Regions from separate parts of the Homo sapiens genome. Here region 1 is linked to region 2. The links come from fine-mapping of genetic effects on gene expression. A gene starts in region 2. The other region holds a variant in brackets. All regions are shown on one strand. Distances are between the middles of the regions.

Evidence for each region. PIP is the estimated chance that this variant, and not a neighbour inherited with it, causes the effect.
Region 1: its variant is fine-mapped to the expression of ARHGAP40 in unexposed skin (GTEx, PIP above 0.99). The same link has a PIP of 0.9 or more in breast, esophagus mucosa, lung, prostate, stomach and sun-exposed skin.

The regions. Positions count from the first base shown.
Region 1 is chr20:38,625,121-38,633,457 of GRCh38, reverse strand. It overlaps ARHGAP40 (Rho GTPase activating protein 40), which reads right to left. Exons shown (of 15, transcript NM_001164431.3): 3 at 6,243-6,463; 4 at 4,456-4,531; 5 at 3,808-3,956. Among named protein-coding and RNA genes, the nearest start is that of ARHGAP40, 27 kb to the right of the region's middle. The variant G/C (reference allele first, on the strand shown) is at 4,511.
Region 2 is chr20:38,598,101-38,606,437 of GRCh38, reverse strand. It overlaps ARHGAP40 (Rho GTPase activating protein 40), which reads right to left and starts at 4,629. Exons shown (of 15, transcript NM_001164431.3): 1 at 4,359-4,629. The coding sequence starts at 4,495. RefSeq lists an enhancer at 5,507-6,048.

The DNA of each region.
Region 1 (8,337 bases), 27 kb before region 2:
ATGGTGCCCGACACATAGTGAGTACTCAATACTTACTACTACTTTTTAGTTTATTAACACAGTTATCACTAACTTAATAGAATGAAATTAAATCAAATATGTGAAGTACTTGGCATAATGCTTAGTGTGTGGTAAAAGATCAATATGTGATGTCTTTAGCATTATTATTATTATTCAGAGGAGAGTCTTGCTCTGTCACCCAGGTTGCAGTGCAGGGGCACAATCACAGCTCACTGTAACCTTGAACTCGGCTCAAGTGATCCTCCTGCCCCAGCCTCCTGAGTAGCTAAGATTACGGGCACACACCACCACATCCAACTATTTTTTTTTTTTTTGAGACGGAGTCTCACTCTGCCACACAGGCTGGAGTGCAGTGGCGTGATCTCTGCTCACTACAATCTCTGTCTCCCAGGTTCAAGCAATTCTCCTGCCTCAGCCTCCCAAGTAGCTGGGATTATAGTTGTGTACCACCACACCCAGCTAACTTTTGTATTTTTAGTAGGGATGGGGTTTCACCATGTTGGCCCAGCTGGTCGCAAACTCCTGACCTCAAGTGATCTGCCTGCCTCGGCCTCCCAAAGTGCTGGGATTACAGGCATGAGCCACCATGCCTGGCCCACACCCAATTATTTAAAAAAAATTTTTGTAGAGATGGGGTCTTGCTATGTTGCCCAGGCTGGTCTCGAATTTCTGGCCTCAAGTGATCCTCCCACCTTGGCCTTCCAAAGTGCTGGCATTACAGGTGTGCGCCACCATGCCTGGCCCTTTAGCGTGATTAATTATTATCATCATTCATAATTTAATGGAGAAACACTGTCAAAGAAAAAGACAAGATAATGTTGAATATTAATTATCTCTGATGTTTTAGAAATAGAAACTCATTATTAAAAAATTTTAGGCCAGGCGCGGTGGCTCACGCCTGTAATCCCAGCACTTTGGGAGGCCGAGGCTGGCGGATCACGAAGTCAGGAGATTGAGACCATCCTGGCTAACACGGTGAAACCCCATCTCTACTAAATATACAAAAAATTAGCCAGGCATGGTGGCGGGCGCCTGTAGTCCCAGCTACTCGGGGGCTGAGGCAGGAGAATGGCATGAACCCAGGGGGCGGAGCTTGCAGTGAACCAAGATTGCACCACTGCACTCCAGCCTGGGCAATAGAGCGAGACTCCGTCTCAAAAAAAAAAAAATTTAGGCCGGGTGCAGTGGCTCATACCTGTAATCCTAACACTTTGGGAGGCTGAGGCGGGCAGATCACCTGAGGTCAGGAGTTCGAGACCAGCCTGGCCAACATGGAGAAACCCTGTCTCTACTAAAAATACAAAAATTAGCTGGGTGTGGTAGCACATGCCTGTAGTCCCAGCTACTTGGGAGGCAGAGGCACAACAATCACTTGAACGTCGGGGGTGGAGGTTGTAGTGAGCCGAGGTTTTGCCACTGCACTCCAGCCTGGGCAACAGAGTGAGACTGTTTCAAAAAAGAAAAAATTAAATAAATAAATAAATAAATATAAATGTTATTTGATGTACTATGATTAATGGAAAATATTATCACTAAGAGAAACTAGGTGCAGAGTACGTGGGAGTTCTGTTTTTGCAACTTGCTGTGGACCTAAGAAAATTCCATTTGAATGAGTGAAAGTACTCTCACATTGGAATAGAGGCTACTGCAGGGGGTGGGGTTGGTTTCCTAAGCAGTAGAGAGTGGTGGTCAGTTGGGAAGGCTCCAGGGTCAGGCTGCCAGGTGTTCCTGTCCTGGCCTTTGTGGGAGCCAATTCTGTCACTTCTCCTCTCTGAGCACCATGATATGGTTTGGCTATGTCCCCCGCCAAATCTCATCTTGAATTTCCATGTGTTGTGGGAGGGGCCCTGTGGGAGGTAATTGAATCACGGGGGCAGGTCTTTCCCAGGCTGTTCTTGTGATAGTGAATAAGTCTCACGAGATCTGATGGTTTTAAAAAGGGGAGATTCCCTGCACAAGCTCTCTTCTCTTGTCTGCTGCCACATGAGACGTGCCTTTCACCTTCCACCATGATTGTGAGGCCTCCCCAGCCATGTGGAACTGTAAGTCCATTAAACCTCTTTCATGCCTTTATCAGCAGTGTAAAAACAGACTAACATATGCCACTTCTCTTTTTTTTTTTTTTTTTTTTTAGGTCTTGCTCTGTGGCCCAGGCTGGAGAGCAGTGGTGCAATCATAGCTCACTGCAGCTTCAACCTCCAGGTACAAGTGATCCTCCTGCCTCAGCCTCCCAAGTGGCTAAGACTACAGGCCTGCACCATCACACCTGGCTATTTCAAAAATTTTTTGTAGAGATGGGGTATTGTTATGTTGCCCAGGCTGGTTTCAAACTCCTAGACTCAAGCAATCCTCTCGCCTTGGCCTCCCAAATTGCTGGGATTACAGGCGTGAGCCACTGTGCCCGATCCTACTTCTCTTTCTTTCTATCATATAGTCAGGGAGCAATGAGGGCACTGGAAGCCTTGGGAACAATGCCCTGGGCCAGGGCAGCCCTCAGTAAAATGTTACCTAAGATTGCATCGACTGCATCATCACGTGGTCAAAGAAGAAACACTTCCTTTAGTAATAGAGGGACTGTGAAAGACTATATTTACTCCATGAGAGAAGTCAGAATAGTGGTTATTCTGCAGGGAAAGGAATTACCTGGGAAGGGCATGCGGGCACTGAGGGGGTGGTGGGGTAGGAAGTTTCTTTCTTTCTTTCTTTTTCCATATTACAAGCCATCAAGCAAGGGAGGAAGTTTCTGTACTCATTTGTTGGTATTTACACGGGCATACACACCAAGCTGTACCTGGTAAATATCTGTGCACTTAACAGCGAGTTATAGTTCAATCTTTAAAAACCTAACTATCAATGATTACATCCTATTTGGAAGGAACTATGCTGGGATAACTGAATATTTTGGGAAAAAAGAACGGCCAGGTGCAGTGGCTCACACCTGTAATCCCAGCACTTTGGGAGGCTGAGGCTGGAGGATTGCTTGAGCCCAGGAGTTTGAGACCAGCCTGGGCAATGTAGGAAGAACCTAACTCTAAAAAAAATTTTAAAAATTAGCTGGGCATGGTGGCATGCAACTGTAGTCCTAGCTACTTGAGAGACTGAGGTGTAAGGATAGCTTGAGCCTGGGAGGTTGAGGCTGCAGTGAGCTGGGATGGTACCACTGCACTCCCGCCTGGGTGACAGAGTGAGACCTTGTCTCAAAGAAAAAAAAAAGAAGGAAAGAAGGAAAGAAAGGAAGAAGAAAAGGAAGGAAGGAAAGAAGGAAGGAAGGAAGGGAGGGAGGGAGGGAAGGAGGGAGGAGAAAGAAAGGAAAGAAAGAGAAAGAAAAGAAAAACAAAGAAAGAAAGAAAGAAAAAGAAAGAAAGAAAGAAAGAAAAAAGAAGGAGGAGGAGGAGGGAAGGGAGGGAGGGAGAGAGGGAGGAAAGAACAGAACTAAAATATTGGGTCTCTCTCTGTCACTCCAGGCACTAAAATTAATTTTAAAAGTAACTAGAAAAACATGTTGATGGACAGTTATGAGCTTGCTGGAGGAGGGAGGGCTTTCTAAGGATAAAAACAAAGAGCATGGAGACAATACTGACAGGACTGTTAGACTGTAAGCATCCTGCTCCCCAGTCTTGATACCCAGCGGTCACTCAGTAAATATTTGTGGTACGAATTAAATGAATGAATGAATTAACAACTTTTGTGCTGGATGCCTGTCAGTGTGGAAGGTGTGAAGAGATGGGTGCTGGTGCCTGAGCACAGGGGGACCTAGCCAACCAGCCCTGTGGACAGCATCCTCACCGGCAGGGAACACTTGCCCCAGGCAGAGGTGCCTCCCCGGGATGGCCTGCTCCTCTGCAGGAGCACCGCAGCTTGTTCTGAGTAGGCAGAGTCCATGTTGAAGGCTTCTTCCCTCCCAGCCTGCTCCTGCAGCCCCCCAGGCTCTGCTGCTGCGGGGCGGGGGAAACAAAGCAGAGAAAGGCAGTGAGAACTGGCTGCCAGGAAGCAAGTGCTTGGGTTCGGGACTTAGGCCCTTAGTCCTAAGAAGTGAGCTCCCAAGCTCAAGTTCAAAGCCCCAGGATCAAATCATTAGGTTTAGGGCTCAGGCTCATTGCCCAGGAAGTGATTTCCTAGCTATGGCCCATTGCCCCCAGGAAATGATTTCCTAGCTAAGACCCTCACTGCCCCAGGAAGTGATTTCCCAGCTAAGGCCAATTGCCCAGGAAGAGAATTTTCCCATCTTGAGCCCCATGGGCCTGATGGCAACAGCTCACTTAAGGGCCCAACCTGTCCCCTCAGGGCTCCTCCCTACTGCCCTTGAGCAGGGAAGGCAGGGAGTCAGCAGGAAGCAGGAAATGCTGGGAGGTGTGCACATTCTCTTACTTCACAGAGCAGCCCTTTATGCAGCCTGGAGGATTCTCAGGGCCCTGGAGAATGAAGACCACTTACCTGGAGGAAACTTAGAGGCCCCGGAACTGAGCTGGGCCCCCTTCATACCGGAGTC[G/C]CCATTCTCTGACGACATTTTCTATGCAAATTACAGACAGTGCCCAATTACTCATGTGGGAAGCTGACAATGCTCACACAACCCTGGGAGACAGAAGCCACCCACAACCCCTTTTCACAGATGGAGCCACTGAAGCCCAGAGAGGCTGAGTTACTTGCCCAAAGTCCCACAGCTGCTAAGTCGGGGAATGGGCACTGGGGCCCAAGTCTGGCTGGCTCCAAAGCCTGTGGTTTTAATCACTGCTATGCCACTTCAGAGGTGCTCCAAGAAAGATGATGCCCACAACCTATCAGGCTTCAAGTGTCAGCAGGATACACAGTGACAATAAAAAAGTATTTTGTGCCAGCCGGGCGTGGTGGCTCACGCCTGTAATCCCAGCACTTTGGGAGGCCGAGGCTGGTGGATCACCAGGTCAGGAGATAGAGACCATCCTGGCTAACACAGTGAAACCCCGTCTCTACTAAAAATACAAAAAATTAGCCGGGCATGGTGGCGGGCGCCTGTAGTCCCAGCTACTCGGCAGGCTGAGGCAGGAGAACGGCGTGAACCCGGGAGGCGGAGCTTGCAGTGAGTCGAGATGTCGCCACTGCACTCTAGCCTGGGCGACAGAGCGAGGCTCAGTCTCAAAAAAAAAAAAAGGATTTTGTACTGATAATGAGGTAGGAGGTGGGACTTTGGCTGAAACAAGGAAGAGGCAAAAACACCTCTCCATAAGACATGCCCACAGTGCCATGACAGTTTACCATTGCCATGGCAACACCTGGAAATTACTGCCCCTTTTCTAGACATTTCTGAATAACTCACCCCTTAATTTGCATGTAATTAAAAGGCAGAACTGCTCCTGAGCTGTTGCTCTGGACACACAGCCTATAGGGTGGTCCTGCCCCTGGGCTGCTGTCCTGGACACGGCCTATCGGGTGGCCCCGCTCTGCAGCAGCAGTCACGCCACTGTATTACTGCTGCCTCCATAGTGTTGTTTTCTTCTACCACCAGCTCACTCTTGAATTCTTTCCTGAGTGAAACCAAAAGCTTCCAGAGCTAATCCCCAATTTAGGGGCTTGCCTGCCCTGCATCAATAACAATTATATAGAAAGAACCTAGGCTTTCAGGCTCACCCAAGGACACACAGTGGCAACAGGCATATATGCAGTGGCATGCATGGGAGATGAAGACCTACATGCAACATAGGGACATAGTGGAAGGCAGGGAGACATACGTGTGCAAGCCACTGCACTCTGAATACACACACACCAACACACACACAACACACACACCAACACACCCCCACACACACCAACACACCCCACACACACCCCAACACACACACACCAACACACACACACCAACGCACACCCCAACACACACAACACACACACTCAACACACATACCCCAACACACACCAACACACACACACATACCCCAACACACATACCAACACACAGACACCAACATGCACACACCAACATACACACACCCCAAAACACACACACCAACACACACACCCCCAACACAGACAACACACACACCCCCAACACACATACCCCAACACACACACACCCCAACACACACACCAACACACAGACACCAACACACATACCAACACCCACACACCAACACACACATACACACACCAACACAGCCCTTCAGCAGGATCACTGCATCTCTCAGGCTGTGGCGGCAGCACAGAGATCCCAGTCAGACGGGGCCTGCAATGACCCATATGCCACTTACCCCTGAATTGAAGACCCCAAAGACATCCCTGACATCTCTGACAGGTGTCTTGTGTTGTCTTCGCACTGAGCGAGCATAGATGTCCAGCCGGCGGCACACAGCGGCCACCTGGGTCTGTGTCAGGGTGGACAGGAGCTCCTGGTGATCACCATCCAAGCCCAGGCCACCAAGGAGGCCCGACAGGCCTGTGTCCTGCAGCCACTGGGATTCAGCTTCCCCTTCTGCCAACAGAAGTAGAACCCAGATGAACACACACAGCTCTGCACTCAGCCACTCGTGCTAACCAAAGTTCTGCATAGAAGCACACACTCACCTGGACACAGGAGTTTCTGCATATCTGATCGTGAGACCTATTAACACCAACCAGACTCTCCGGGGGAGAAGATCTAATGAGCCTTCTGAGAACTGGGGGCGGGGTGGGGGGTACTGATAGCATTAGCCAGTGTATGGATGTCAACCCATAACATAGCAATCCCTGGAAAACAGAGGTGGGTGAAGGGCCCTGCATGTTCAGATTTTGGACCCACTTCTCTCCAAAGTAATGAACCCACTTATCCAAAATCTGGCAGAGACCACTACAGGGTCACATGGTGTCCCCTTGGGAAGTTGGTGCTGGGTGTTGATGTCCCTTTGGGAAGTCCTCCATATTCAAGACCTTATTTGTGTTGGAATTGTCCCCTCTACTGTGCTTCCTAAGGAAACTCTCATAGTCCCATAGCAAAACCATTAACTGGAATGGGAGGGTGTGTTGAGATTTCAGGATCTCGGGTCTTACCTCCAGGGATTCTGTTCCAGGAGTTCAGGCCTCGGGCCTGAGAATCTGCACTTCGAATGTCTTCCTCAGATTATTCTAATGCAATAGGGTCTTCAGACCACACTTGAGAAACACTGGCCTTATCATGGGGGAAATGGACAAGAGCTCTTACTGGAAATTGAACACATGTGTGAGAGGATTGGTGGGGTGTACAGTTGTACCCAGTGTTGACCCAGTTAGTCAACAAGGTAATAAGTGTTTTAAAAACTCAAACAAAACTGCTTTTATGGCAGCCTGGGTTTTGCAAATAATCCAAGTCTTCCCCCAACACTTTCCCTGCACTTGGGAACCAGAACAGATGCCTCCAGGGCAGTTGCAATGTTGTGGGTCCATTCCTGACTTGTGCTGGCTGGTGGAGGTACTGATTCTATCATGATGCCAGACATTTTTTTGTTTGTACAGGATCCTTTCAATGAGCCACTGTTTCTTGAAATGTAGGCATTCACCAACCACCTTTATAATTTTTATCTGTATCTAATTGTCCCTGTAAAATTCCTTACCAAATATATCCCCTTAATCATGGGCTACATTTTTTACTAAAACACATCTATTTTAAAAGGAAACAAGATCCCCACCATAAATGGAGCATCCAACATCACCTGCCATGAGTAGACATTGATGGGAAAAATAAATTATTAACAATCCCTCTGGTTCAAGTTGGTGTCCGAATAAAAAGAAAAGATGACCAGGCATGGTGGCTCATGCCTGTAATCCCAGCACTTTGGGAGGCCAAGGTGGGCAGATCACCTGAGATCAGGATTTCAAGACCAGCCCGGCCAACATGGCGAAACCCCATCTCTACTAAAAATACGAAAATTAGACGGGTGTGGTGGTGAATGCCAGTAGTCCCAACTACTTGGGAGGCTGAGGCAGGAGAATCGCTTGAACCCAGGAGATGGAGGTTGCAGTGGGCTGAGATTGTGCCACTGCACCCCAGTCTGGGTGACAGAGTGAAACTCCGTTTCAAAAATTAAATAAATAAATAAAAAGAAAAGAAAGGAAAAAAAAAAACCAGTCTTGGCTCCATGCCACTCAGGATCCCTCAGCCCTGTGAGTCTAAAAAAGCTCCTGTGTTTATTTGGTTGCTCAAAGTGGCTTCTCTCTGACCCACTCTGACTCCACTCCCTGTGTATTGTGGGAAATTAGATTGCTGGCCACATCATGATTCCAGAGAGGCCACATGGAGGACCTCCTATGCAGGGCATCTCCTGAAACCACTTCTAGTGTAACCAGGGATGTTTTTACATTTACACTTGGAGGCACTGCATGAGACTATTAGGC
Region 2 (8,337 bases):
TTGGTGAGTCTAATTGGGTACAACCTTCCTGGAAAACCACCCAGAATATGTTTCAGAATTTTAAATGTATACACCTTTGGACTCCATGATTCCTATTCTGAAAATGTATCATAAGTACACAAAGATATATGTCCAAGAACATTGCAGTATAGTTTATAATAGCAACCAAAAGAGAAAAAGAAGCAACCTAAAATTCCATCAACAGGAGGCTAGTTAACAAAAGTACTGTCCAGTCATAAAATGAAACATCACACAGTCTTTAAAGAGGATAACGTAAGGGCAGGTGTGGTGGCACATGCCTGTAGTCCCACCTACTTGGGAGGCTGAGGCAGGAGGATTGCTTGAGTCCAGGAGTTTGAGACAAGCCTGAGCAACATAGGGAGACCCTGTCTCTACAAAAATGAAAAAAATAGCTAGGCGTGGTGGTGCATGCCTGTGGTCCCAGGATCACTTGAGCCTGGGAGGTTGAGGCTGCAGTGATTCCACCACTGCACTCCAGCCTCAGCCTGGTCAATAGAGCAAGACTCTGTCTCCAAAAGAAAAAAAAAGAATAATGTTGATTTCTATGTCTTTCCAGGAAAAGATATTATAAAGATGGAAATGTCATTTATAAAATAGTATACATAATACAAACCAATTCACGTATGTAAGTACAATTATGTGCATGGATTGGATCATAGATACATTTTACGTATACATGTATGTAAATATTTATGAAGCACAAAATCCTATAGGATGTACACTTAACTTCTCACAATTGCTGTTCTTGTGGGTTGGAGGTGGGAGGGGCAGGTGGATTTCACTTGCTACTTTTTTTGCATTTTTATACCAATCATGAATTAACAGAAAATATATTTCTACAGGGAGCAAGGATAAGGGGAATCCCAACAGAGTCACCTCACTCCAACTGGGTCTTTGAGGCACCTCCCAAGGCCAATATTGCATGGTTTTAAGATGAAGTCCACATAGACAGTGAATTCGGTGTCCCCCTCACATTATGGGATGTTCTGTTTGATGACAACATTGACTCTATTCATCCCTGCTCAGGCCTTTCAGGTCAGCATTTAGTGTATTATGTGGTAGTGACCAGTGTTATGTCTTCCTCCTGGACCAGCCTGTGGACATCTTAAGGGCTGAGAGAGCATCTTATTCATGCCCACACCCTCATATCCATCACAGGACTTCATGTAGAGGCAGTGAGCATTTCATTCATCAGGGAAATATTTCATGAACACCTACAACAAGCCAGCCCTGTGCCAGTGCTGGAGAGCTGTGGGTAAACAGAACAGATCCGGGCTTACATCCTGAAGGTTGCCGTCCTGCTGGAATTTGTTGAATAACTAAATGACTCACAAGCAAGGGACCAGTGAGATGAACAGACTCAAAGGATTGGGGGAGCTGACCTAGTGACCTTGTGAGCCAATACACAAGAACATTAGCCTGGAGCAAACAGACCAACCTTGTTCCAGGGAAGTAGTTTTCGCTTTTTTTTTTTTCTTTGGCAGTGGAATGTCTTCTCAATAAACAAAAGAGGTAACGGTGATATTATTATAAGCTGATTTTATAAGTTTAATTTAAAGCATTTACTGATCATACAATCAAGATAATTTTAGTTGACAAAAAACATTTGGGATACCTGAGTGGAGGTAGTATTTTTACTAGATGTTTAATACTTGAAAGATATAATAAAAATTAAATTCAAATAAAATGTTTGCAGAACCCTGGTTTAAAAACCACTGTTCTGGGCCAGGCGCATTGGCTCACGCTTGTAATCCCAGCACTTTGGGAGGCTAAGGCGGGTGGATCATGAGCTCAGGAGTTCGAGACCAGCCTGACCAACATGATGAAACCCCATCTCTACTGAAAATACAAAAATTAGCCAGGCGTGGTGGCGCACGCCTGTAATCCTAGCTACTCAAGAGGCTAAGGCAGGAGAATCACTTGAACCCGGGAGGCGGAGGTTGCAGTGAGCCGAGATCGTGCCATTGTACTCCAGCCTGGGCAACGGAGTGAGACTCCATCTCAAAAAAAAAAAAAAAACACCACTGTTCTGGAAGTAAAAATGTTGCTTTTGTTGTTTTGTTTTCAGTAATAAACAGAATGGTTCAAATTTTAAACTCTCTTAAGTATTTTTCATCTGTTCATTCAACCAGTAGCTATTAAGCACATTCAATGGGTCACGAGCTCTTATAGTGAATTCAATATTAATTGCCTCAAAGATCACAAGGAACCAGGAGATTAAGGGAGGGTGGTGGTGGAGTCAGGGGAACAGCCATAATAGGTAGGTAGATAGGTAGATAGATGGATGGACGGACGACGCATGGTTGGATAGATGGTGTGATCAGCTGAATAACAGCTCCCCAAGATGTCCACATCCTAATCCTCAGTATTTGTGAATATATGTTATCAGGCAAAGGGACTCTGCATATGTGATTAAGCTAAGGATCTTGAGTTGGGGGGACGATCCTGGATTAGCCAGTGGGCCCAATGTCATCACAAGGATCCTTATCAATGAAAGAGGGAGGCAGGAGAGTCAGAGAAGGAGACATGGGGATGACTGTGGAGGTCAGAGTCAGAGAGATGTGTGAAGATGTTACAGAGCTGCCTTTGAAGACGGAAGAGGACCATCAGCCAAGGAATGTGGGCAGCTGCAGAAGCTGGAAAAGGCAAGGAAACAGATTGCTAGAGCCCCCAGACAGAATGCACCCCTACAGACTCCTCGATTTGGGGATTTCCAGCATTCAGAACTGTCAGATAACACATTTGTGTCGTTTTAAGCTACTAAGTTTATGTGATTTGTTATAGCAGCAATAGAAAACTAATATAAATGAGAGAGAGAGACAGAGAGAGAGATGATAGATAAGCTTATGTGATTTGTTATAGCAGCAATAGGAAACATAGATAGATGAATAGATAGATGGATAGATAGATTAGATACAGAATAGATAGATAGATGGATAGATTAGATATAGAATAGATAGATAGATAGATAGATAGATAGATAGATAGATAGATAGATAGATAGATAGACAGATAAACAAACTTGTCTTTGGCTTCTTAAAATTGATTCTTATTAAAATCCTATCCTGAGTAATTTTTGCCTGTGATGGGGCAGAGCCCCACGCACATAGGAGCTCAGCGAACATGCTGTATGAATGAAATGGTCTCACTAAGCTCCCCCTCCCTTTCCTGAGCCTAGAAGTTGTTCCCTTAAGGGAATTCTAGGACTCAGTTGTCCTACGATCAGGATCACCTGCTCCCTGAATCTGCTTTCTGAGTACAGACCACGTCTAGTCTTCAGGTCCTTGGGTGGCAAATGAATGGGGCAATGGGGGTCTCCTGCTGCAGGTGTGTTCCAAGCTAGAACACTTTTGGAGGGCAGGGTCTATTCAGATTCTAACATTCCTTTTAAACTTGCAACTACAAGTCTAGGATGTGAATTTTACCCATGCAAGTCCCCAGAGATGTTCATTGCTGTATTGCTTAGAATCGTTAAAAATTGGAACCAACCTAAATGTCCATTAGCCAGGAACTGATTCAAATTAACCAAAGATATCCATAAAGTTGGATCCTGGCAGGCCACTAAAGTGAATGAATTGGATCTTTATGTTACTGACATGTAAATATGTCCATAACATTAATTGAGGGGTTGCAGGGGAAAACCTTACAAGCACATGTAACACAAGAGCCTATTTGTGTAAAACTATACAAGTTTAGGTTTACATATGTCAAAAAGTTCTCCCAAGGTATATGTCAAAACTTTAACAGTAGTAAGTTTTCAAGAATGAACATATGTATTCCTGTACAGTATTCCTGCACTGTTTGACTTTCTATAATAATCAAATTGTAATATGATGTAATCAGAGTGGGGGAAATGACTATTTGAAAATTCTGGTCTGGCTGTCAGTGGCAGGCTGAGCAGGAATAAGGGGTGACCAGTTCTCAGCCGAGGTGACCACACGGCCACACTGACCCAGAAACTTGACCCAGAGACTCCTGAATCTTGAGCCCCTGGGCCCCCTAAGACTCTACACCCAGAGGAAGAGGAAATGGCACATACTGGCGTCACTCACGGTCTCTAAGAATCTGAAAATCAGTGACCCCTGCAGGAGGCCAGTAGCCTGAACCCAGGGCAATGCTGTGTCCCAGGAAGGCTCTGGGTTTGGAGTCCCATGGACTAGGGCTAAAAGCCATCTCCACCACTTGACAGCCAGGTGACCGGGCTCTCCAAGCCTCTGTTTCCTCATCTGTACGATGGAGGAAGATTCTTGCCTCACAGGGATGTTGTGAAGACAGACCGCACATGCCCCTGGTGCATAGTAGGGCCAACTTCCCTCCCGCTCCCGTGACCCCTGTACCTGCAGCCCAGGTCGGCCCAGCGCTGGGCGCAGCGCCTGGCAATGCGGGCCCGCGGGATCCGAGGACACGGTGAGGCTAGGGGCCCTGGGGCCAGCCTCTCCATCTGGGCGGCGGGGAGGAGGGCAGGCTCGGCCATGGGCTGGCACCTCGAGGATCCCGGTCGGTCGTGGTGCTGCCGCCGTGGGGCTGACTCGATCGGCAATGTGAGAGGGAGGAGTGAGGTAGGGCCCCCGTGGCGCACCCAGTTCCCAGACACCCTCATGCAGGACTAATGTTCAGCCTCCTCCTGGGGCGGGGCTGGCTTGGCCGGGGCCACCTACAGGCAGGCACTCGCCGCACACACACACACCACTGAGTCCCACCCGCCTGCACTGGAACTGCGAGGTGGAAACGGCGCCTTTCAAAAACTGTCATGAAATATGATTTGCATGGCCACTATTATTACCTACAGCCATCCCGATTTCAGAGTAAAACCACATGAATAAAGCACCTGGCTACTATGGGTGGAAGAACGTGCTCACGACCCAGGGGTTTTTATCTGGCTGGGCTATTCCCTCTGAGGCTTCTCTGAGCCTCGGTTTCCTCCTCTGTGAAATGGGGATGGTGACATTTGCCAGGAGACAGGAAAAAAGCAAGCAGGAAGATGTCAGGGTGTAAAGAGAGCAGGACCTGGGCACGGGGGCGGGAGGATAGGAAGGGAGCAGGAAATGGGAGTGGCAAAGTGAGGGGGCGTCCGGAGAGCCTCCCGGGATTGGTCTTTTGGCTGGGATGTAAAGGAGGAGGAACTAGCTGGGGAAAGGCTGGGTAAGGGGAAAACCCAGGGAATTTAACCCCCTCTTCTGTAAAATGAGAACTCATTCATTCACTTAGCAAATCTTTATGGAGCTCTGTAGGGGCCCTGGGGGAAGGCGACCAGAGTGTCTGAAAGCAAAGAGCAGGAGAGTGTGGACTCAGCTGAGAGGAGAGCAGAGGCTGAGTGTCAGGGTGGGGAGTGGGAAGGGGTTTCCAGGTGCCAACAAGGACACAAGCCAAGGTGTTGCAGTAGGGCATTTGGGGAACGTATGAGAAGCGCTCCTGCCAGCTTCCCTGGCGGTGTCCTATTCCCTGCATCCATTTTGGACCATGAGCCCCTTCTCTTGCCCTCTGGCCAGGACTGAATGCCATAGACTTCCCCAGATTGCCCGGGCCCGCCCTGCCCTCCTCTAAGCCTCCGGGTGTCAGTGAATCTTTCCAGGAAGCATATTCACCTGTACTCCAAGAAGAGAGGCCCCAGAGTCCTCATCAAGGAGGGCCCCCAAGTCTATGGGTCCCCACAGTCTGAAGCTCTGTTCTGGCCTTAGGGAGGCAAGAAATGGGCCCCAAGAAACTGAAAACAGGGCCCCACGGGAGCCATAGAGCCCAGGAGCATGCATGGTTCTGGCATTAAAGACGGGAAAGGCCTCGCAACACAAAGGGTCCTGAAAAACCCCAAGTTTCAGGTGGCTGTCACTGGCTGGAACCTGCAGACCAGGGCTGTGCAGAAGACCACCCATCCACTTCTCCTGAGCCTCCTCCTGAGGAGGAGACAAGGGAACCATGCCACTGTGAGGCCAAGGAGCTGGGGTCCAATATGTAGGTGAATTGTCAGCCGAAGTGGGTGCAGAACTACTTTGGGAGCCATAGGGAGTTTTGGGTGGGAAACATGGTAGGTGCTTAATAAAGGTTGGGTGGATGGATGGATAGATGGATGCATAGATAGATGGAAGAAAGAATGAAAGATTGGTTGGGAAAATGGGGGATGAGAGAAGGGATGAATGGGAAGGCAATTGAATAAGAGGTTGATGGTTGGTTTGATGGGTGGATGGATGGATGGATGGATGGATGGATGGATGGGTAGGTGGATGGGTAGGTGGAAGAGTGAATGGCTGTGGGCATGAATATGTGAGAGCATGAGTGAATGAATGAATCAGTGAGCCATTAGGTGAATGGGGGGAAGAGTAAATGAGTGAATGAATGAATAAATGCTTGAGTGAGTAAACAAGTTAGTACCTGGGTAAATGAACTTCTAGTCCAGACTGAAAACATAGTTCATTGTTACCTTCCTTAGGTGCAAGGAACCTTTCAGAAGAAAGCAGGAAGGAAGAGAGAGTGGCCTGAATCTTGGATGACCACACTTTCAAGCCTCTGTAAGGAAGTGCCCTCTTCGCTTCCGGGAGAGCCGCGCGTATACTCAGAATGAAGCCTGGAGAAGTGAGTGTACCCACGCTCAGGGCAACATTCCTCACCCCCGGCTGAGCCCTGTCCCAGCCCCCCACCTGCAGTATCGGCCAGGCCGGTTAGGTCACAGTGGAGTGGCTCAGACCTGTTGGCCCTGCACCCTGGCAGCTCGCCAGCACCTCCCCAGGCAGCCTGCCATCAGCTAGGCCTCTCACTATCGCAGAGACTCATTCCAGGTCCCTCAGACCCAGAAAGCCCCCCAGGGCCTGTGTGCTGTGTGCTCAGCATTTCCTCCCTGGCTTTCTGCCCCTCCAAGCAGCCCCCACTCCACACTACAGCACAGTCCTATGTAGTGTGATGAGGTGGAGCCTCATAGGCTTCAGGCTGATCCTCAGCTCTGCCACTTAGGCTGTGTGACTTCAGGCAAATGCCTTAACCTCTCTCAGTCACAGCTTCCACATCATTTAAATGAAAACCTTGCCTGGCTTGAGGGGTGGTTGTGAGGATTTGGTGGGATAATACACATCAAGCACTTAAATGGGGCCTGGCACACAATGTACATAGAGCATCTAATTTCCAGGTGCTCAGCTTCTTCCTTTTTCTTTTCTGAGACTGGCTCTCACTGTATCACCCAGGCTGGTGTGCAGTGGTGTGATCACAGCTCACTGCAGCCTTGACCTCCTAGGCTCAAGCGATCCTCCAGCCTCAGTCTCTGGATGGAGCTAGGATTTACTAGGCGTGTGCCACCACACTCAGCCATTTTTATTTATTGTTTTGTAGAGACAGGGGTCTCACTATGTTGCCCAGGCTGGTCTCAAACTCCTGGCTTCAAGTGATGCTTCCACCTCCGCTTCCTAAAGTGCTGGGATTACAGGCATGAGCTACCATGCCCAGCCAATTTTTTCTTTCAAAAGTAATTTATGGAATGAAGTGCCAGCCAAGCACTGTGATCACAGCTTTACATGCATTACCACATTCAATCCTCATGATAAACTCTCAAGAGAGTGTTATGGGTTCAAGTGTCCTACCAAAAACATATGAAAAACATGTGAATGCCTAAGCCCCAGTAGCTCTGAATGTGACTGTCAGGCCTCTGAGCCCAAGCTTAGCCATCATATCCCCTGTGACCTGCACGTACACATCCAGATGGCTGGTTCCTGCCTTAACTGATGACATTCCACCACAAAAGAAGTGAAAATGGCCTGTTCCTGCCTTAACTGATGATATTATCTTGTGAAATTCCTTCTCCGGGCTCATCCTGGCTCAAAAGCTCCCCTACTGAGCACCTTGTGACTCCCACTCCTGCCCGCCAGAGAACAACCCCCCTTTGACTGTAATTTTCCTTTACCTACCCAAATCTTATAAAACGGCCCCACCCCTATCTCCCTTTGCTGACTCTCTTTTCGGATTCAGCCTGCCTGCATCCAGGTGAAATAAACAGCCTTGTTGCTCACACAAAGCCTGTTTGGTGGTCTCTTCACATGGATGCACATGAAATTTGGTGCCATGACTAGGATCAGGGGACCTCCCTTGGGAGATCAATCCCCTTTCCTCCTGCTCTTTGCTCCGTGAAAAAGATCCACCTATGACCTCGGGTCCTCAGACCCACCAGCCCAAGGAACATCTCACCAATTTTAAATCCGCTAAGCAGCCTGTTTTTACTCTCTTCTCCAACCTCCCTCACTATCCCTCAACCTCTTTCTCCATTCAATCTTGGCACCACACTTCAATCTCTCCCTTCTCTTAATTTCAATTCCTTTCATTTTCTGGTAGAGACAAAGG